2 separate regions of the Homo sapiens genome follow, and region 1 is linked to region 2. The links come from fine-mapping of genetic effects on gene expression. A gene starts in region 2. The other region holds a variant in brackets. All regions are shown on one strand. Distances are from middle to middle.

Region 1 (12,069 bases), 29 kb after region 2:
TTTCACAATGAGAGTTTTACAAAATACACAGCAAATGAATAGGAGTTGCTCAGGGAGTGCTAACACTCATTCCTTGTTATTACTACTTAACTGAAAACAAGTAAATAAACTTCCTTTACTATTTTTCAGGAACTTTTTGCCCTTCTAAAATTTAGTCTCCTGACACTATTTTTTTATAGTTTGTAGTCTTCTTTCATATTTATTACTGTATATTCCTTTTCCCACATTAGTACATTTAAGTGCTGAGGTTCATGGAAAAAAAAAAAAAAATCAGCATTCGAGTTGAGCCCTGAAGAGTAAGTAGCATTTCCACAGCAAGAGACCAGGGTTGAGTGGGGGAGAAGAGAGAGCATTTTAGTCCTACGAAAAAGCACAAGCAGAAATGGGCAAATGTGAGAAGGGTATGTGTAAAGACACACTGTGTTAATTTCAGTAGAGGGAGGAGGGATAGGAAGACAGTGGGAAGAAAGCTAACAGCTATTGAGCATTTATGATTGCACAGGTGGTGTTTATACTCATTATTTCATTTGCTTGTTAACTTAAAACAATCATTTGAGGGAGGTATTAGTTTCTGTATTTTTTTTTTTTTTTTTTTGAGACAGAGTCTCACTCTGTTGCCCAGGCTGGAGCGTAGTGGCACGATCTCAGCTCACTGCAACCTCTGCCTCCCAGGTTCAAGGAATTCTCTGCCTCAGCCTCCCAAGTAGCTGGGATTACAGGCGCCTGCCACCACACCTGGCTAATTTTTGTATTTTTAGTAGAGACTGGGTTTCACCATCTTGGCCAGGCTGGTCTTGAACTCCTGACCTCGTGATCCACCCGCCTCGGCCTCCCAAAGTGCTGGGATTACAGGTATGTGCCACCACACCTGGCCAGTTCCTGCATTTTATAAGGTGACTAAAGATAATGCAACTCAGAAAGGTGAAGTAACCTGTCCAAAATGAGAAAGGAAAAAGCAGAGCCAGATTTGAACTTAGGTGTTTTCCATTTTTCTCACTGGGTCATTCGACTACAGCTTTAAATTCTTATGTTTGGCCATTTTCTATCCTATTTAAGTAAGAAACTCTGTTGCTATCAGAAATGTTCCTGGCTATTCAAAGCAAGGCTTAAATACAGTCTATTTTGTTACTATGAAAATCCGCATACATAAATATTAAATAATAGAACCTAATAAAAGACAGATCCCAAACATGAAAGGTTATTTTGTTACTGTAACTTACTAAACTGACTTAATCTAATAAAAATACTATTTCTTCATAGTAGTCAGGTAACAATAAAAAACATATTTCAATAGTCTTGAATAAAAAATATGCCTTAAATGCAAACTGTGGATTTATACTTTATCTGATAGTTAAGGCTTCCAGCAAGTGGTTCAGACAGAGCCTACAATTTTGTTCTCTGTGTAAAATAAGTTACAGGTTTCATAACTCTAGTTATCTGGTGTTTCCTGGCAACTCTCAGTTGTTCCAAGTTTACTGTGGATAGCAGATTGAATATAGTCAGAAGGCCCCAACAAATAAATGGGCAATGGACAATTCACAAAATAGTAACTGTATCTGGCTAACAAATGCAGTTAAAATATTCCTGCTCCACTAGAAATCAAGGAAATATACAAGGGTTAACCTACCAAATTCAGGAAAAAGTGCTAGTATTCAAACAAAGGTAATGCAGTAACATGCAAAACATCATTGGTCAAGTATTGCCTGGTCCTATATACTATACGGTCTGCAACTCTGGTTCTCTCTCATTTGCTATTTTAATAAAGTATTGTACACTTTTCAGAAGAGCTTTAAAGTTTTATGATGTGTAATTCTAAATGTAGAAATGAAGCCTTCTGCACAAATAAGAGAAAACCTAAATGTCCTACAACAGGAAAATGGTTAAAAAAAACTACAGGTAATCTACCCAATGGATCATTATGCAGCCACAAAAATTCCACTTAGCACAGTTTATAACACGAAAAACCCACCTGTTATGTTGTTAAATGAAATGGCAGAGTACAAAGACATAATATGAAAAAAGTGACTACAAAATTCAAAAACATGCATTAATTTAAAAAAATCTATGTGGTAAGAATGAGAGAGAGAGAGAGAGACAGACATGGATACTATTCCTCAAAATGTTTTGTACTGGTCAATTTGTAAAATCCAACCTTACCACAGTCTTCACATTTTTATATATGAGATATATTTCAAAATGTGTTACTTTTATAGTGAAGTAGAAGACAAGAAATGTCGTGTATAGCCACACTATAGTCTGGGGTTATTTAGTGCAGGGACAAACATCCCTAAATACAGCTTTTTGGGCATTAGTAGTATCACTGCATTAGAGCACAGCAAAATTCTTGCCCATTAATCTATATTCATAATAACCTAGAATAACCAAAAGTTGTATTATGATAGTAAACTGTTAAATAGAGAAACATACAAGAGGTTGTAAGAAGATCTCCATCAAACCAGTATCGACACAGTATTTCATTAATATAAATCTTCCTGACATACTTTCATCATGTCACTCCCGTTCCCAAACCCTGAAAGAGTCCCCAGTGTCAGGAGTAATTTGAACAATTTTCTGCAGTGTGCACGCATTGCACAATCTGGTCCCATTCTAACGATTCTCCCCACTCTCATCCACGGGATCAAAGGCTCTCATTCACAAGCCTTGTGCTCGGGCTTGCCTACTCACTTTCTCTCAAAGAAACTTTATGTACTTTTGCTCAATCAGCCACCCACACCTTGATTTCCCTATTCCTTCCTACTCCTCCCTCAGCTGACTCCCCATACTTCCAGGCACAGACTGCCCTCTTCAACCCAAAGCCATCCTATATACACATAAACGCACACATGTACATATACCTCATTAAGTTATTGTCTATAAAACACACCAAGCACTTGGCCATATAGCCTAAAATTATGTAAATAAATATATGTATTATCTCCAGAATGCATCTGAATTTCCAAAGATTAGGGAACTTTGCTATATTTCTTTGTATAATACATTGCTTTTATATAATACTTTACAGCTCACAATGCAACTTCACATATATGATTTTCAATAAATACCTTAGTGACTTAAACTTCTCAAAGAGTTCATCCTAGAAAGATCTGGGATAAAGATATTCTTCCTCCCTACAACCCTCAAATAATATTAGTTAATGACAGAATTAACAATTACTTCATACTGAAGATATTCCCATGTGAATATAAAGAAATGACCAAAGTCTGTCTCCGAATGTGCAGATTTTAAATTTGGAGCCATACGGTATTCAAAGAATAGAAGCTAAAAAATGGCTATTCAAAAAAAAAAAAAAGAAGGATACCTCAGTAAAAAAAACTTATCAAAACAACATTTAAAATAAAAAATATTTTCAATTTAACATGGCAATCTACAATTAAAAATGACAGGTTGAACTTTTATTTAAAAAAGTCTATTTTCTTTGTTAAGTAGACAGATGTTTTCATTAAACCTACAAACTGAAGGCTCTTAAGATTTTTCTGAAACTTTTACAATAAATAAAATTAAGGTAGCCTAAACTATTTCAGAATGTGAAGTCACAGTAAACACAACTCCCTGGTGTTGATCTTCATTGCCATATACTGTTAAAAAGTACATGACCAAAAAAGTACTCTGACCAAAACTAAACCAAACACTTTCCAAAAAACCAGAAATCTAGTACAAATGAATTAATTCAGACTGGGTGGTTTAAATATAGTATTTCAGTTATAGTTTGGACTGTGTTTGATCACTGTGTTATAGAAAAAGGCCTTTATCCACATTTAAAAATAGGTACAGTATATTATATATATATATATATGGAGAGAGAGAGAGAGAGAGAGAGAGAGAGAGAGTGAGTCTCGCTCTGTTGCCCAGGCTGAAGTGCAATGGTAAGATCTTGGCTCACTGTAACCTCCGCCTCCCGGGTTCAAGCCATTCTCCTGCCTGAGCTTCCTGAGTAGCTGGGATTATAAGCATGTGCTACTAGGCCCCGCTAATTTTTGTATTTTTAGTAGAGATGGGGTCTTGCCATGTTGGCCAGGCTGGTCTCGAACTCCTGACCTCAAGTGATCCATCCACCTCAGCCTCCCAAAGTGCTGCGATTACAGGCGTGAGCCACTGCACCTGGCCACATTACATATATTAATGAAAATTAAAAACATGGGTTTTCCTAGGTAAAATAGTAATGTTGATAAATTCTATCTTATGCTGCATCTCAGGTTTGAATTATGATGTCATTAATTACCTATATAGTATCTTTAATATAAAACTAAAACTTCAAATCTTACAATATCATCAAGGACTTACCCATCCAATTCAATTAACTGACCTAAGTATTTTTCATAATTGTATTTTTATGTTAATAGCCAATCACTTCCCCCTTTCCAACAATTCACACTTATTCTATACAGTAAGGTTTCAAAATGACAAGTTTTTTTCCACCCAAGTATTCTACAGACCTCAAAAAGGGAAAGACTGCAGGGAAAACGAGAAATGAAAGAAATCTCTTGCTACCCTCAAATCTACCAACCTATACTTAAGAGCCAATTCTAAGCTCAGAAAGGAGAAAAAAAAAAGTGGGAATATAAAAACCTCTTAAAATGTAGAAGAAATTAGACTAGTTTAGTTTTCTTTAATATCTTCTTTAATAAGACATTACAGCACACAACTGAGCCCCCAGTGTGTCAGTTAAACATGGGGATGAATATCCATGTGAAGAGAATGGAAACAAGTTTAATCTTAACCCCATTCCTTTTGGCAAGTAATAGAAATACAGCATACAAATGGACCAATTCTCTCTCAGTGTTATTTTATCAAGTCTTTGAAGACACCATAACAGTTTTATAATGAACTTTGCTGCAATCTGTTAAAGAATCTTCAAATTAAATTACAGGGATGTTTGGTTTTTAACTCAAACACAGTAAAATGGGGATTGTACTAATAATCCCCTCATGAAGTATAAGGATGATTATGCTCATGTAAGATCAATGCAGCTATTTCCCTATCACTGAGATATAGTGTTAAATATGGTGTCTTCAGCTGCTTATAAAAAAGGGTTAAATACAAGAACAAAAAAACTTTCATCCTGAATTAGTCACTAAAACAAACGAAAAAAAAAAAACCAAAACTTGTGAATGGTTTTATATGATTTGTCACTAAACATATACATATGCTCAAAGCACTTTTAAAAACTTTTAAGTTGTGATTTAACCAGAACTTCTGCAATATCCACAAGAAATTAGGTAAAATTCTAACGTTCTGGTAATCGACATGTTAGGAAACAACAGATATTACATCTGAAACTTAGGAAATAAAATACACAAAATAAAAGGACTATTTTAAAGTAAGGGCATAAGAATAGGAATTGCTAAGAAACTATCAGCCCTGAAGCTTTTCCTTGGAAACGTCTTAAACTTACAGGGAAGACAAGGTGGGCAAAATATGCAGAGCTACAAAACAAAGCAATGATAAGCTACAGCAGAAGAGGGAATGCATTCTGTAATCCACAGGATCAGATAAATGGCTCTAAGCAGTTACCAGTAAGTATTTTAGTGTTCTTTCTATTATATTAATTTAAAAATTTAAACCGAGTTAACAGCAGTTTTACAAGTTAAGAGTTGACACAAGCAAATTAGAAGAACTCTAAAATTAGCCTTCCTTAATTGGGTAAGATTTACCATATCCATCTGAACAAACCCATTTTCCCATCCTGAGATCTAAAAGAATGTGAATATTGACCCATTTTAATACTTTTCAAGTTCAGATGGAAGTCATACTGTACACCAGTCTCTGATTTTAGGTAACAGCACAAAGCAAACTCCTAAAATCAACAACTCACTTAGAAAAGAAAGGAGGGAGAGGGTTCTGGGAATTAATCCAGCCACAAGTCATTCCAATCTTCCTGTTAATGCAAAATCCATTTGTAAAAATGGCCAAATAGTAACTTCCAAAAACCTCAAAAATTAATGTTTCAATTTCAAATTAAAGAACTTCAAGAATTTTCAAAGAATATAGTATCAAGATCGACCTTTACCAGTTCACATTTGTTCCATATTTTGCATTAAACAATAGGCTTAATGATTATTTCATTACGGCATATACATTAGAACCTAACCTTTCACAAGGGCTCACTGACAATCCAACCGCTTTTAGGAAGCTATCAGTTATCTACAGGGTACACCTGACTGGCAGTTAGAGCCAGGTCATACTGCAATTTTAAATATTCCAACTCAAACACAGGAAATGATCAGAGGGGTACAATGACACATAACCGCAATATACTAAGGCAGCAGATAAGTCATTTTTCACCTAGATCATCAGCTGCCCATAAAATCGTATGCACAATTTTAATGAATCAGTCTGCTCTAGTTTAACTGAGGAACCTGCCACTGAGCAGAGAAAGGGATATAAGAATTGCACTTGCAATTCTAGCTGATGAATTCATTAGATTTTTATAAGGCAAATAATGTGGAAAGTTAGAACAGAATTTCTAAAACCATTTATCCTGTGATGTCGTAAATCAAAGTACTATTTTATTAAATGAGTTATTTTACACAATATGAACATCAATATAATTACAATTGTAAAAAAATTTTTTATAACAAGGATGGACTGATTTTCATATTTCCAAATCAGAGTCAACTGTACATTTACACAGAATTGTCTTTGCATGAAGCCCAAGAGGGAACAGCATAAAAATGAGTGTTTCTGTAGCCCCTTTATTTTTGCTGATCAACAGTTTGTTAGAAAAGCAGCTGCAGGTATGTTACCTAAGGTCTGAGACAGTAGAAGAGTCAAAGGTGTCATGAATTCACCTATAAAACATAAGCAAAATTTTCAATGAATGTTACCA[T/C]TGCACAAATGCAACTTACATGCATTTCAAATAACTAAGAAGAAACACTATGAAGATAATATCTGGTAAACTTGTCAACTCGACTTTATATACAGAACTCTGAAGAATTTATTTTAAAAAGAAAGAATTCTGAAACACACAACACACCCACCACCAACTCCACTATTTAGGGGGAAAAAATCCAACCAAATGTAATGTGTAAAGTGATAACTTTCAACCAACAAATTTATAAACAAATTTATATAGCACATATCTACATCTACATTTTGCCCTATATTTTAATACTCAGAAGCTTTGCTAAGGGGATAGGTTGGGGGAGAAAAAAAAGAACCTCTGCTAAGTACTATAAGTAAACTAATTGTAAAGAGGTGCTCAGGAACATTGGTGTACATTGTTTTTAGAGGGAAACTCTCAAATAACTTTGTAATCACTATTTTCTTTAAACTGATAAGTTCCTTCCATTCTTTGATCAGAGATGGCTAGCATGTACTCATCTCCCCATTTTTGGCTACAGTAGTAAAAATTTGGATGTTTCAAAGGCATTGAAAGGAAATAGTCTGAGAAAAAGGGACTTTTCAGTTACACATTAACTTAAAAAGGGGAAGCAATAAAATCTCAGAAGGCAGAAATTAATTTCACAATAAGTGAAGACAGTTTTGGTCTTGTATACAACCCTGTTATTAACAAACCAATAGAAAAAGAGGTGAGTTACCTGTAAACAACCTTATGCCTGAACATCAGCTAATTCTGGAGGAAGTGGAGTCTTAGGATGCTTGCTCTCAAAGTGCTGCTTGAAGGTCTTAGGGTCTGGCATTTGTGTCTAACAAAAAATTGTGCAAAAGAGAGCTAGACTTTATTTATAAAATAAAAATGTGTTACTTTTTAGAATCCTGAACCTTCTCAGTATAGACAATTATCCCAAAAACACCTTTAAATTCCTACAACTTAGTGACTGGCATATGAAGAGGGACTTTGTGGTAAAGAAATTCCTAACGTTCCCACATTTCACCTATAAAGAAAGGTAGGTCACATAGAATGTATTCTGCTTATCTGATTAACAGCAAACAATAGGTAACATTTACTGAACCCTTATTATATTAAGCATGTTACCTTAATTCCCACAGAACCTTCAAAGTAATCTTTAGCTCCTACTAGCATCATTTTACCTGATAAGGAAACTAAAACCCAGAGTTTAATTTGCCCAAGACCTTATTTTAACTTAGTACTAGATATGTGACCTCTCAAATACTATACTATACTGACTTCCCTTGGCAAGAACCTTCAATTATTTATTCTTAACCCATTAAATTACACAAAATATGAAATAAAAGTCTGTGGTTTTGAGTTTTTAAATATATGTAACTACTCTACCACATTTAGATTAAGGTATTTCTTCATTACTAGTTGATTAAAATTTGCACCCTGCCTCTTTCCAAACAATCACAAGCTGCTCAATTTCATTATTTTGAGTGTATATGTAGTGTACTAACTCCACTATGGTTTCCTTTGGTACTGCCACTCACTAACTTCAAGGGTAATGAGCTTAAACAAACAGGCAAGAGGCTCTGATTTGGAATTTCAGAAGTACTTCTTTGAGAGGCAGTACAGTAGTGGTCCAGAGGGTGGACTCTGGAGCTGAACTGCCTGAGTTCAGATTCCAGCTCTTCTACTAACCAGCTGGGAGACCCCACACAAATTGTTTAATTTCCATTAGTCAGTTTACTCTTCTGTAAAATGAGAACAATAAAAGTACTTTATCTTATAGGGTTGTTATGTGGATTAAATAGGTGAATACATGTAAAACACCTGGCTCTATGTGTGGCATATGGTAAGCACTCAAAAGTAGCTGTTATTATTACAGTTCTTCAAATCTAATACAACACATTAATTCTAGGAAAAGCTCTCAACGTGATTATACTCTATATGGTTTTACAGACATCCTAATTATAAATTTAGTGAAGAAAAAACCAATTATATAACTAGAGGTATACTTACTAGCATATTATATAGCTCTAAGAGTGTAGAGTTATATGATGTGCTAGTGAAGTGTATTATATGCCCTTATGAAGACATCTTTATTTTATATGAGGAAAGCAATTTTGTTTTGTTCACTCTGTTTTCCCAGCACCTAGAGATTTTTGCCTGGCCACAGGAGCCATTCAAAAAATATTTGTTTAAAGGGTGAATGAAAATAGATACCTAAAATAATCAGCTCTCAAACCTACTATTTCATGTAAAGCATCTATTTTGCCATGGTTTCAAAATTTTAATCTATTCAAGCCAAAACTGCCCACGGGAGAGCTGTATCTTTCAATTCAATTCCCCTTACCCTACAGACAGTGCAGGTATATATTAAGGCAGCTTTGGCAGCAGCCTTTTGGTCATGTCCTTGTTTCTTCTTTTGTCCAGCTTGCTTTTTGGCATTTTTCTGCTGAGACTGAATTTTCTGCTGTCCACGAGCCATATCTAAAAACAGAAGGTGAAGCATTAGAGTGGCTTATTTACTCTAATACAGAGTAATCAAAGCATAAGAACGTTCTTAGAATTGAAGCCTTAAGTTTTATAGAAATATCTGGCAAATAAAAATTTATAGGTATTAAAATTCCCACATATAAATGCTACAAAAGTATCAATTGACACAACCCTGTGGAAAACTAGTTGGTAGCTGTTTATTCTATGAGCCAGCAATTCCACTCTTGGTATATACCCAATAGAAATGCAAATGTTATGTACACCAAGACATGTACAAAATGTTCTGAGTGCCCATTCCAAAACTGGAAAAAATCTGAATGCCCATCAATAGTAACACGGATGCACAACTTGTATACATATTTTTATAGTATTTATACAACGGAATACTACCCAGCATTTAAAAAATTGTGGCCAGGCGCGGTGGCTCACGCCTGTAATCCCAGCACTTTGGAAAGCCAAGGCGGGTGGATCATGAGGTCAGGAGTTCAAGACCAGCCTGGCCAAGATGGTGAAACCCTGTCTCTACTAAAAATACAAAAAAAAAAAAAAAAAAAAAAAATTAGGCAGGCATGGTGGTAGGCACCTGTAATTCCAGCTACTTGGGAGGCTGAGGTGGAGAATTGCTTGAATCCGGGAGGCAGAGGTTGCAGTGACGCGTGATGGCACCACTGCACTGCAGCCTGGGCGACAGTGAGACTCTGGTCTCAAAAATAAATAAACAAACACACAAACAAAAAATTGTTACAAGTAACAACTTGGTTGTATCTCAATGTTAAAGGAAAGAAGCCAGTTGTGGGGAATATACATTATTTAAAGTTCAAAACAGGCAAAGCTAATCTATAGTGAAAGGGGTCACCTTGGGGGTTATGGGTAATGACTGGGAAGACAGGACATGAAGGGGACTTATGGGGTCCTGAAAATGTTCTTGAATCAAGTGTGTTTACTTATAAAAATTCATTGAATTGTACACTCAAGATTTATGCACTTTACTGTATGTAATCTTCACAAGTTTACTAAAAAAGTTTAGCCCCCGCTATCATTTACTTGATCACTCTGCAAAAGTAATTTCCCTTCCCAGTATTCATTGTGACTTGCGATTGTGATTTTTATAACTTTAAGAGAAATAAAAGCTGTCTGTTACTCCTTCTAAAGGAGACCTCAGAAATAGGTGGAAACTGTTTTCTTACTTAGTTTTCATAAAACTACTGTTATTAATTTTTTTAAAAAGTTGGTCTTGCTGGATTGCTGAACAAATTATAAAATGAGATTATCAGCAAGCCACTAATTCCAGAAGTTTCTTTGCTCTCTAGACGTTAGTTCCCATTTGAGGGAATGAACTTGGTTAAGAGGGTTCTTTTACAAAGCTGAAAGATACCACTTTTTGTTACCGATGATCTGACGTGAACCCAAATGGATTAAAACAAAAAAAAAAATCAAGTCACTGAAAAAAGTTACTTTTACTTTTCCATTTAAATTAAAGGCTTTTATTCGACCACACAAGTTAAACCTGCTCATAAAGTCTATCATGAGTCTCAATTGCTTTTTAAATATATCAAAATTGGATCCTAAGTAGAATTCATATATATATAGTTTTGACTAGTACTGTAACTGAATGTAAATCATTGCAGGACAGGAACATACAATGGATTTGTATCAACTTCACCAGGGAAGGGTGCTAGCTTCTTCTGACTAGGACCATAATTAGTTAATGGATATGAGGTCAAAGCATTTCATAAAAATTACTGAGCTCCTCCTGTTCCCCAAAAAAGGAAACTAAAAAAATACACTGATTGGAGAAGTTCCCACTAGCATTAAAAAAATGAACTGAAAGTCAGATAAAATATAAAAGAGGGTCAATGCTTTTCAGGATAGTCAGCTGACTATTTCAACTGAGGAAATATGGGGTTTTTATATTAGGGTAGCACACGAGCCTAATACATTTTCGTAATTGAAAATGTTTAGCGTGCTAGCCTAATATGAGAACCCCATTCCCACCAAACAATGGTAAATATTACCAGCTGTTATCAGTCCTTGAAGACTAAGCTTCCATTTTTGCTTTAAAAAAAATTATTAATTCTAAGCCAAATGGCACATTTTTTTTAAAAGTGTATTTAAGTCCGATGTTACCGCAAGCTTACAAACCTATTCCCATGGAAACAGGTTTGGATACTTATGTATTATTTGGACGACAGTAGTCACGTGATCAGCCTTTATGTATACCAATGTTTTGCAAGGTTTTTTGTCTCAATGTCTTACTATCAGGACCTTGTAACAAAATAGCCAGTCTTCTCACACATCTTAACTCTTCGACACAATGTATTTTATGTATCTTAATACACTGATTTTGTGGGAAATCTTGTTTTATGTTAAAAAAAATCTTCAAAAATGGTAAGCCACTAATTTCAGAAGTTCCTTTGCTTTCTAGAAGTTACTAGCTATTTTGATATTTCCATGTTGTGACTCGTACAAAGCAATGTCATTAGACACACAAAATTATTTTTAACTTTTGCACTTAGGACTTTCCCTAAAATATAACATTACACAATAGATTCAACCCATTTTCCATTGTCACCAAACAGCAACCAAAAAGACCGAAGAGACTTAATAAAGACAGTAGTCACTTGTTCTTATTCTGAAGACAGAAAACTTAACACCAGGTAAAGGAAATGGAATAAAATAAGCTAAATGCATGAGGTAGGCCCCTAACTTCTGACAACACGCCCCATCGATTTCCTTTCTGAAAGCAGAAA
Region 2 (12,069 bases):
AGACTAAAGTTTTATCATGGAGATGAAGGCTCCAGGTAGCAGGCTTTAAGAATAGACTGTAAATGTTTCTTGTCAGACTTAAGGTCTGTGTTGATGTTAAGCTGGTTGGCTTTTCCTGAATTCCAAAAGGGAGGAGGTCATAATGAGGCATGTTCGACCTCCCTCCAGTCATGGCTTGAACCAGTCTTTCAGGTTAAATTTGGAGTGCTCTGGCCTAGAGGAGGAGGCCCATTCAGATGGTTGAGGGGCCTTAGAATTTTGTTTTTGGTTTACAGCAGTAACTACAAGAATTTTTCCCAAGTTCTGTGAGCAATACTAACAAATTAATCAAGTGCAAGGAGGAGGTCATGGAAGCCTCAATTTACAGCCAATTGGAGAGAAGTATAGGAGACAACCTATTACTTGCGACTGGTCGTCTTGTGAGGCTGAACCCTCACCCTGTGGCATCTGATGCTATCTCCAGGTAGATAGGATCAGAATTGAATTGAATTAGAAAATTCTGCTGGTGTCTGCTGCAGAACTGATACATTGGTTGCTGGTGGGAAGAAATCCCCACATACTTCTTGGTGACCAGAGGTCACAGAAGTCTTCTGTGTTTATTGTTGAATGAGAGTATAGGAGCAACTGATTTTGTTGATCCCTATATTCTCAAACCATGTAACTCACTTCGACTCATAGAAACATTAGTAGAAGTGATGTGAGCAGAGGCTTTAAATGTGCTTTTGGGGCTTGGCTTTGCCTCTTGCACTTCTGCCATCTGCCACAAGATGAATCTACCTGAATAGCCTCTGGTCCCAGAATGAGGCGACACTTGGAATAAACCTAAACACAACTAGTAGCCTGGAGCCAAGTCTGTCTGGTTCCAGCCACCCAAGAGAGTCACAGCCAACCTGCACACCCATAAGCAATAAATATTTATTGTAGTAATGGACTGAGATTATGCGATTGTTTGTTACATAGCATTATAGTAGCGGACATCTGACTACGATAATTGCTCACATGTGAAACTGTAATCACTTTTTACATTTGCATTTCCTTTATCCCCATCGCTAATCCTTGTCAGGTCCTCTGAAGCTCCTTTGAATCATCTTCCGTATCTCTTCCCTGATTTCCATTGCACCATCATCACCCTTCATCACTTCATAGTTGGGTTCTTGCAATGGCTTCCTTAATGGAATCTTATTTCTTCCCCATCCAATCTTTTCTACACAGAAGTGCTAGCATGAACTGCCTTACAAAGTCCTTGCACAACAGGAAAACTCTGCTTGAAAGCCTGAAAATGCTTCCATCTTTTAGAGCCAAAACAGCCAAGCAATTCAGAGATATATATATATATATATATATATATATATTTTTTTTTTTTTTTTTTTTTTTTTTTTGAGATGGAGTTTCAAAAAAAGAGTTTCAGCTCTTGTTGCCCAGGCTGGAGTGCAATGGTGTTAGCTCACCACAACCTCTGCCTCCTGGGTTCAAGCAATTCTCTTGCCTCAGCCTCCCGAGTAGCTGGGATTACACGCATGCGCCACCACGCCTGGCTAATTTTGTATTTTTAGTAGAGACGGGGTTTCTCCATGTAGGTCAGGCTGGTCTTGACCTCCCAACCTCAGGGGATCTGCCCGCCTTGGCCTCCCAAAGTGCTGGGATTACAGGCGTGAGCCACTGCGCCCGGCCCAGAGCTATATTTTATGCACAATTGTAATAACTATTCTTAGCCTAGGGTCAGGTAAAATTATTTCCCCTGCTTTTCATAGCTCTTGCCTTTTATCTTTTTGGGATGGTCCTAGTGATTATGGGTCACTTTAATTTTTCTCAAATCATATTTTAGAAGCAACAGATAGAAGCTTCGCCTTGCATCAAGGGCAAACTTTTCTCCTTGATTTGCAAGCCCTTTCATAATTTGGCTTCACCTTATCCATTATTTGACACAAAATAACAACACTTATCCAACACTTACGGAATTGCTTATTGTGTGCCAGCCATCACTTTAAGTGTTCTGCACATGGTGTAGGTTAAGATTAGGTTCAACCATGAGTAATAAGGAGCCCAAATAACAGTGGCTTAAATAAGATAGCTATTTTCTCTCTCTCATGTAAAAGCACAGAAATAAGTAGCCAAGGACTGGTATAGTGGCTTTACTCATAAAGTCTTCAGGGACACAGGTTCCTTCTTCAGGGACACAGTTCCTCATTCTTAGGGTGTTGTCCTCATCCCCACAGGCCAAAAAAGCAACTAGAACATCAGACATCACATCCACCTTCCAGACAGCAGACTAGACGGTGCAAAGAAAAAAAGGGAGTAGAGTATATACCAAACTGGTGTGGCGGCTCACGCCTGTAATCCCAGCACTTTGAGAGGCCGAGGTGGGCAGATCACTTAAGGTCAGGAGTTTGAAACCAGCCTGGCCAAGATGGTGAAACCCTGTCTCTACTGAAAATACAAAAATTAGCAGGGCGTGGTGGCACATGTATGTAAGCCCAGCTATTCAGGAGACTGAGGCATAAGAATCGCTTGAACCCAGGAGGCAGAGGTTGCAGTGAGCTGAGACTGTGCCACTGCACTCTAGCCTGGGTGACAAGCAAGACTGTCTCAAAAAAAAAAAAAAAAAAAAAAGAGTACATGCCAGCTGCCCTTCCCAGGTAGCTGCCAGATAGCATCTGCTTATAATTCATTGGCCAGGCACAGTTATACAGCCACACATAGTTGCAAGGGAGGCTGGGAAGTAGAGTCTTTATCCTGGGCAGCCATTGGCACAGCTGAAAACTGGGAGTCTATTACTATAGAAAAAGAAGGAAGAGGGTAGTGTAGGATTACTGACAGCCTCTGTCTCAGATATATCCAGTCACTTAATCCTCCAGACAATGCCTGCAGATAGATACTATTCTTACGCTCATTTTGAATATAGGGAAACTGAGGCACAGAAAGGCTAACAACCTTGGCCAAGGTCATACAGCTAGAGTGAACTCAGGAGACTTGCCTCCAAAGCCTGTGTTCTTTGCTCCCCGTCACACAGCTTCCACGGGCGCGAGTCTGGCCCACTTGAGGCCCAAGGAAGTGCATGCGTATTCCCTAGCTGTGCCTTCAGCCTCTCCTCTCTTTCTAGAAAGCTGTATTCTGTTCCCTCCCCCTTCCTTCCGGGCTGGGGTTCAGGCTCTGCCTGCTCCTGGTTCTCACTGATGTCCTCAGCATCTTCCCCACTGTGACATCATTTTGTGGCTTACAAGCCCTGAGAGGAAGGGCCAAAGCCTTTATGCAGCATCCGGGCATTTAAGGAGTGCAACAGAGGGATGTGGGCGAGGGCGCCACCACTGGAGGACCTCCAGTCATGCCTCCTCCTGTTCGCCCCCCACCAAGGGATCTGCTTGACAAAGATGGCTGCCTATGACTCTGATTCTTTAGACAAGGCCCTGCATGGCTGTTAGGAGTTAGAAGCTTCAGCTCCCTTGGTCTGGAACACAAACTGGTCTCCTGTAGAATTTGCTTAGTGGGGGCAATGCTACTATGGAACAGACATGAAATATCATTCTTAAAACACAAAGCAACAACAGTATTCATCAAAGGAAATGATTTTTATTGTTACACAAAACATTTCTTGTCAGAGCACACATAAATCTAGACAGCAGCTGCATTTTCAGAACAAACAGATGAAATACCTTTGGTGAACTGTGAGTTGGGGAAAACAAGTCACCTTATTTTAAAATTTGGTAATGTGTTTACTGAGTTTAACAGAAATCAAAATCAGGACAGAGTGAGAAAAAACATTTCTGTGGAAACAAAATGCGTTCTCATGAGCACAGCCTATTGTGATGCTTATTATTTTACACAGAAAGAAGAAGAACTGGGTTCCATTTCCTGGGCTTGGGAAAATGCAGCAAACCCTGACCAATGCAAAGAAGGGCTTCCTGGGTCTGCCTCTTAGTCTCTGAGCTAACAGTGCTCCCCAGCTGCCTTCTGACAGACGCATATACCAGCTGACACATCCGGGAGCACACAGCTCACCTGTGTGTGCACAGGGCAGAGCCAAGCCGGGTTTATTCTCATCACGTTGTCGCTCCCACAGCCGCTCCTTCCAGTTCATTCTCACTGCTTCCATCGGGGCTACTGTGGTAGTCTGCCTGTCTTCGGGGCCTCCACCCCCACCCCACCTACAACCACACCGCCATTGAGGCTTAAAGGCTGACCTTTACCATCCACCCTTGAGGTGTACATTCTTACCATTTTTCTTGATCATTTTCAGAAGCGGAGGACACTCTCAAGTCCGCCCATTCCTTCTTGAAGGGTTCTAAGTTTTTCTATTAAACCCAAATCTGTGTTTCTCATAACATCCTCTCGGCTGAGATATAACTAATTAATCAGCTCCCTCTTCTAGAGCGTTTTCCTCACATAGAATTCTTTCTCTTTGTGGCAGACTGGTAATTCTCCTCCACATTGTCTGTTTCACCCTTCTTCAAAAGCAACAGTTTTAGCTGGGTTTGGGGTTACCTAGCATAAGACCATATTTCCTAGAGTTCTTTCTGCTGGGTGTGGCCATGTGACTAAGCTCAGGCCGATGTTATAGGAATAGAAGACATGTAAGCAACTTCCTGGTGATGTTTTTTTGTTTTGTTTTTTAAAGAGATGGGGTCTCACTATGTTGCCCAGGCTGGAGTGAGGTGGTGTGATCATGGCTCACTGTATCCTCCAACTCCTGTGCTCAAGTGATCCTTCCACCTCAGCCTCCTGAGTAGCTGGGACTATAGGTGCACACCACCACACATGGTTAATTTTTAAATTTTTTGTAGAGACAAGGTCTTGCTTTCTTATCCAAGCTGGTCTCAAACTCCTGGCTTCAAGCTATCCTCCAGCCTCGACCTCCCAAAGTGCTTGGATTACAGATGTGAGTCACTGCACCTGGCCTGGCTATGTCCTTAAAATGACTGGGTGGTACGTCTAGTTCTCTTTCTCCCGTTTTTCTGCCTGGGAGATGATGAGAACTGGAGCGGTCATCCTGAGCTTACAAGGGGAAGCCTTGTGTTGAGGAGGGCTGATTAACTGGACTTGGACCACCTGCCTACCTCGACCGTTGTGAGAAAAATTAACTGCATTGTGGTAAATCCTTTGCATTTTGGACTCTTTCTTACAGCAGCTTAGCCTGTACCTCACCTCCACTTATGAGCCTACTCATTCTGCAAATATTTCACCAGCCTAGAAAGAGCTTCTCCATCCTCTGAATCCAAAGCCCTTTGACCTGCCTCTTGTGTTTGGCCTCACTATTTACCTGGTACTACATTTGTCTGTGCATGAATCTTACCTGCTCTTTGCAGGCCAAAGAGGACAGGGGTAAAAGCTTAATCGCTTTCTATTACACAATGCCTAGCATATTGCCTTGGACAATGATTGGTTCCCAATAAATGTGTTGAATGAAGAAAGATGATTCTTCATTGTCTGTATACATGAATGAATTATAACAAAATTAGAAGCTAGTGATATTTGATTAAATAACCATATCTAAAAACTACTAGATAAGAGATTACTGTCAAGCTAGAGAATGAGGTGCCAAGTTGGCAAGCTACTGGTTTTTCTCCTGTTCAACATTTGTATCAACAACTTCAATGAACGATAGTCAATATACCCATTGTGCCTGTGGATAACACAACGGGAAGCCAAAAAAAAAAAAAAAAAACTAGATAAGAGAGTCAAAAATCAAAAAGATCTGTACAGACAAGAATAATGGATGAAAATTAAACATTAACAGAAAAGTTCTGAATATCAGTTCAAAAGTAGGCAAAGGGAAATAATGGAAGAGAAGTAGTTTAATTAAAGACTATGAAAAAGGCTTAAGGATTTTATTTGATTGGAAGTCTGGTATCAGTTAAGAATACAATGTGTTGGCCAAAAAATCCTAGTGCAATTCCAGGCTGAATACATTCATTCAGCAATGATTTATTGGGTGTCTACTAAGTGCTTGGTGTTGTGTGGAAAACAAGGATGAAGGTGTGGCCCCTGCTTTCGAGCAGCTTACAAAAGTGACATGTGTTCCTCCTAGACCACAAAGTAGAAAGCATTTGGTGCTGCAAAGTAAAAGAGACAGGAAAGGTCGGCACATGTATGATGAAGGGGAAGAGTGGGCTTGTGGAGAAGCACAAGGAATGATAAGGTAGGGAAGATATTTCAGTGCCAGTCTGTAGTAGGTCCTTAGTGCCAGGCCAAGAAGATTGGAAGTTATGTGAGGGGATGAGGAAATGAAAGATTTTGCAGCCAAAAAAAAAAAAAAAAAAGATGGTCAGTGTTTTAGGAAGATTTCTTTGGAAGCAGTCTGTTGGACAAATTGGAGTGGGGAGACACACACACAGAGGCTTATACTTGGCATCATTTCAAAGATTGATGTTCTTGTTCCTCATCTTCATTCTATAAGTGGAGAAAGTGAAGCTGAAGGTTTAAATGATGTCCCTAAAGACACAGAGCTGACAGGGGTATGCAGAAGCAGAATCCAGGATGGTGCTTCTGGGTCCAGTGGGTGATAAACCAATGGCAATTAGACCTTGCACAGTTGTTGGAGTTTAGAAAAACATTTCTGGAGGGACTTAAGGAAACCAGTTAAGAGATCATTTCCACAGGCAAAGTAAAAAATATTGAGCACTGAAAGTGGAAAGAGGGTCAGCTGGGGGAGAAACTGCTCTGATGCTGTGGGTTGAGAGGGAAGGAAGCAAGGCAAAGAGGACTTGGAGACAGAAGGACAGCAGTGGGATGAATGACCATGGGGAATACAAGGATGAAAAAGCAACTTGGAGGAGTACCATTTTGAGTGGGGCCAATTTTTTTTTTCTTTTTGAGACGGAGTTTCGCTCTTGTTGTCCAGGCTAGAGTGCAATGAAGCGATCTTGGCTCACCACAACCTCAGCTTCCCGGGCTCAAGCGATTCTCCTGCCTTAGCCTCCCAAGTAGGTGGGATTACAAGCACGTGCCACCATGTCTGCCTAATTTTGTATTTTTAGTAGAGATGGGGTTTCTTCATGTTGGTCAGGCTGGTCTTGAACTCCCCACCTCAGGTGATCCACCCGCCTCAGCCTCCCAAAGTGCCGGGATTACAGGCGTGAGCCACCGTGCCCAGCAACAGAGATTCTAGTGGGGCCCATTTTAACAGAAGGGGCACTGGAAATGAATGTGTCCAGAAGAAGGTAACTGGAAAGCAAATTGCAGGAATGAGAGAAGGAACTGCTTAGTCTGGGAAAGCCTAAGTTATTTGCAGAATTGAATTGAAAAGATTTCCGGGGAGAACAGATAGCTAGCATCCTACATCTGTAGAGCTTTTACAGAACAATGTTAAGTTGCCTCCTAACGAGCTTTAGCATGGCACCAGTGGAAGGCACTGTTAGATGGCAGCAATGCAGAGTTGTGGAAAGGCCAAGGGGCAGAAGATTTGAGGCAGATCAGCTCCTATCTGTGAAGCAGTATAGTGGGAGGAGCACAGACTTTGGAGTCACACAGACCTGGGTTCTAGTCCCAGCCTACCTCTACCAGCTATGTGACCTTGGGGAAGTTGCTGAACCTCTTTGTGCCTCAGTTTCCATATGTACAAAATAAAGAGGCTAGATTGGAAGACTTCCAAGATCTTGTCTAGCTATAAAATTCCTTGGTTCTAAAAAGGTGGCTTATGTGCATAAAATAAATAGATGGAAATACAGTATTATCTTCTTTGGATTTTGCTCTCAAATCTGTACTAATATTGGTTATCAAGTATGCACAGCCAGCCTGCTTCTGTTGCACTGCATGATGGCATGTAATGATGGAACAGAGCTGACATGTTCACAAAAGCACTTTTCTCTGTGGGTAGGAGTGGAAAATAGTTCCATTTAGCTGATATCACTAATTTTTAAAGAAAACCATATGAGCTAAAGAGAACTGAAGATGAATGTGGGAGCTATGAGTCAACCACTGAATCTCAGCTGCATTAATTTTACATTATAAATGACACAGTTTTAAAGTTTCTTAGATTTTATAATAGTTGAAATTTTTCTTTAAAAGAGTACACCCTATACATGCCGATACACGTTAAAAAGATTGAACATTTCTTCCCATTCTAAAGCATCTTGAAAACAATGACTGTGCTGTTAGCGATTTTTAATATAAAATACATTTCCTAGCAGTGTTATAAACCGCTAACAGCACTTTTTGTGAAAATTGGCTACTTCATACAAAAAAAACCTCACAGTTTTTGTTATCTTTGTAGGATTTTCTTCCCCCTTTTTGAATTGTTTTATAATGGATAATGTTGCTTAAAAACATCCAGCATTTCCATGAGAAATGAAATATTCAGAAGACTTCTGGATAAGTGATATTTATACATAGTTCCTTTAATCTTAAATACCTAACTCTTAAATAGCATATAAGAGAAATTGTTTTCCTTTACCGTCGTAGATTAAAAGTGGCATCACAAATTTTCAGGTAGGAAACTAAAATATAAGACCTAGAGATTATATAAGAAAGATCCACACTGGCCATCCTTACCTCAAAGCAAACTAAGACCCAGAGGCAGAGAAGAATTTCAAAGCCTGACTTAGAGGATTGTGGAAAATAATTATATCAAATCAAAGTTTAGGACAATCTTGGACCATGGAAAGAAGAAAAGAACATTTAGCACATTGTTAAAAATAGATACTCATTCTCTTTTAACCATAGACAGTTCTTTAACATCTTACATTAGCAACACAGACAGACTGGATCCAGTTTCAGTTCATTCTGTCACTTAACCATTCCACGACTCAATTTTTTCATCACCAAAATGGGGGCGATATTATTTCCTAGCAGGCTAAGTGTGCAGCTGACATGTGACGATGTGTGTGCAGTCCTTTGTAAATTATACAGCACTTCAAACACAGAGGTCTGCTGTTATGGGTCAAGACTGTCAGGAGAGCTCATGGTTAATGCGAATGACCCGGAAACGACTCGTAGCTGTTTAACACACATGTTTTTGGTATCAAAACTGCAAGCGGGATTGAGTTTGAAAGAGCATTATTAAGAGAAAACAATCTGCTCTGCAGATTCCAACTGTGATGTGGTGCCTGTTTCTTGGCACAGACCTCCCACTTAAACTAATTAAAGTTCCACACAGGTAGAAAATGAATGCTTGACTTGAGATCTGCCATGTGGACCTAAAAGATGGAATTGTCTATGGCTCTTTTATTTCGGTTAAAAGAAAGCAGCATTTGCTTTGTTTAAAAAAGAAAATGGGGGGAGGGGAATGTATGTGGGTTTGTTTAAATGCTGAAGAAAACTGTTCTAAGCAGCTGGATGAATAAAAGGGAGGAGCACTAAAGAAAGAATGCGCTAAATCTAAAGATACAAGAACAACACCCAGGAATTGATTGAAAATGCTTTGGTGACAAGTGAGGCATGTAATGACAAGAAAGCAGCATGTGTGCATATTGAGGAGTGCATGTGGAAAACAGGTTTCTCCTTTTAATTAGCTTTGCCGCTGGGAGGACCTTCTCTCTCCACTTTCTGTCCAGCTCTTCCATCCCAGAATTCCACTCTGGGTTCTTGTGATGTGCTAACGAGGCTGCAGGGCAGCTCTGATTGAGTGGGCCAATAATACTGGCTCAAGGCCACCTAGAGAAGTGTTCTCCCCAGCCTGACAGATGCCCTTTAAAGAAAAACCTGGAAGAGCACCAGCCTTTTTGATGGTGGCTTAGATACTTGAAGCCCGATGTCATTCTTTGGGTGAGATAATGATTCTTTCCTGCCTGGCCCACCTATAGCCCCTTCTGAAATTTAAAATTTTTCAGGAATATGTTGGAAAGTCTACTAGTTTTTCTCCAATGTCTGCCCTCCTTCTTTATTGATAGAATCTCAGTTTTTACTGATTGTACAAAATAAAGACATTTCCCAGCCTTCCTTGCAGCTGGAATGTGTGTGTGTGTGTGTGTGTGTGTGTGTGTGTGTATGTAAGGGGAAGTGCTGGGTGCAGCCTCTGGGGTGGGGTTATTCCTATCCTCCTCTTTCCTGCCTGGACCATGCAGATGAGGGCCATCCCCTAGAGATAATGAAGCAATAAGATGGGAGATACCTGGCAGTCCTTGACACCATGGACCCGCCATACTAGTCTTTGGCTGCAAACTCTCACGCTGTCATGGAAGATAAATAAACCTCAATACTGCTTAAGCCATTGAAACTTTAGGTCTCTGTTGCACACAGATGAACCCATAGTCCAACAAATGTATCTTCTTGACTAAATCTTACCTTCTTACTCTGATGATTTATATTCAGAGAATAAATTTAACTTTGTCTATATCTGGGGTAAAAAAGAACAGCTCTTCAATAAATCTGCTTCTCTCCAAAAATATTCCAGAAAATTCATGTGATTGGAAAACTGGGCTACTTAGTAGAAGTAAAAAAAAAATTTTTTTTTTCAGGGGATTCTTTGGGAAGCAAAGATCTCCAAAATTCAGTCTCCGTTATGTCTGCAGAATGCACTTAGTACATGTTTGGTCAATTCAACGTTCGTTGGTGAAATTGGCCAGCAAAGCTTGCAGAAACAGAGAATGTGAATGCACAGTGCATGACGGTGGGCTGAGCTTTGGACATCAACAGGGGAATAAAAATCAGTTCAGCTCTTGCTAAAATAGTTTTCCATTGTCTGAATCAGAACTGAGCACAAATGAGTCACCAAAGTTAAAGCTGAAAAACAACTAAGTTGGACTAAGAGTCCAATAAGCCAAAGCCAAGTCTGTTATATATTATTTTATGGAATTATGGGGATAAAGAGGCTTTAGAAAAGAGTAATGTGGAAGAATCTATGTTGGGCTTGTGTGTATATCTCAAGAAGTTTTCAAAAGTTCATGGAAAATATATATTATGAGAAAACTATGCATGTATTCAAATTTTTTTTTTTTTTTTGCCAGATAAACTCATACTAACTTTTTATAACATGTCTGAACAGAATCTAGTGTGAGGCTCCCAGAAGGGTAAGACATCAGCTTGAAAACAGCCCCTGTGAGAGGAACATGAATTTTGCTAAAATTGAAGCAAGAACAAATGTGTCAAGTTTACGGTGACACTTGAGTGAAAGAATGGTGAAACCACTGATGCTTTATGAAAACTTTAGGAGTATAATGTCCCAAAGAAATCAGCAATTTACAAATGGGTAACTCGTTTTAAGAAGGGATGAGATGATGTTGAAGATGAAGCCCATAGTGGCAAGCCATCCACATCAATTTGTGAGGAAAAAATTCATCTTTTTCATGCCCTAGTTAAAGAGGACTGATAATTAACAGCAGAAACAATAGTCAACACCACAGACAACTCAATTGATTCAGCTTACACAATTCTGACTGAAAAAATCAAAGTTGAGCAAACTTTCCCACAATGTATGCCAAAACCATTGCTTCTAGATCATCTGCAGACAAAAGCAGAGCTTTCAATGAAAATTGGAAACAAGTAACATCAAGATCCTGAAGCATTTCTTTGAAGTAACAAGAGATGAAATATGGCTTTACCAGTACAATCCTGAAGACAAAGCACAATCAAAGCAATGGCTACCAAGAGGTGTTAAGTGCTCCAGTCAAAGCAAAAGTATACTAGTCAAGAGCTAAGGTCATGGCAACAGTTTTTTGGGATGGTCAAGGCATTTTGCTTGTTGATTTTCCGTAGGGCCAACGAATGATAACATCTGCTTATTATGAGAGTGTTTTGAAAACATTAGCCAAAGACTTAGCAGAAAAACACCCAGGAAACCTTCACCTGAGAATCCTCCTCCACCATGACAATGCTCCTGTTCATTCCTCTCATCAAACAAGAGCAATTTTATGAGAGTTTTCATGTTAGGCATCCACCTTACAGTCCTGATTTGGCACCTTCTGACTTCTTTTTATTTCTTATCTTAACAAATCTTTACAGGGCACCCATTTTTCTTCAGTAATAATGCAAAAAAAAAAAAAAAAGAAAGAAAAAGAAAGAAATGGTTGCACTGACATTGTTAAATTCCCAGGTCCCTCAGTTCTTTAGGGATGGACTAAATGATGGCTAGTATCATTGCTCACAAGAGTGTCTTGAACTTGATGGAGCTTATGTTGAGAAATTTTTATTTCGTATTTT

The links. PIP is the estimated chance that this variant, and not a neighbour inherited with it, causes the effect.
Region 1: its variant is fine-mapped to the expression of ZNNT1 in whole blood (TOPMed, PIP above 0.99). The same link has a PIP of 0.9 or more in lung and unexposed skin.

What each region holds. Positions count from the first base shown.
Region 1 is chr8:101,192,431-101,204,499 of GRCh38, forward strand. ZNF706 (zinc finger protein 706) reads right to left here. Exons shown (of 4, transcript NM_016096.5): 2 at 9,177-9,313; 3 at 7,560-7,667; 4 at 4,622-6,809. The coding sequence starts at 9,311. The coding sequence ends at 7,572. Among named protein-coding and RNA genes, the nearest start is that of ZNF706, 7.2 kb to the right of the region's middle. The variant T/C (reference allele first, on the strand shown) is at 6,848.
Region 2 is chr8:101,163,258-101,175,326 of GRCh38, forward strand. ZNNT1 (ZNF706 neighboring transcript 1) reads right to left here and starts at 6,982. Exons shown (of 1, transcript NR_164368.1): 1 at 3,548-6,982. RefSeq lists enhancers at 3,144-3,438, 4,024-4,223.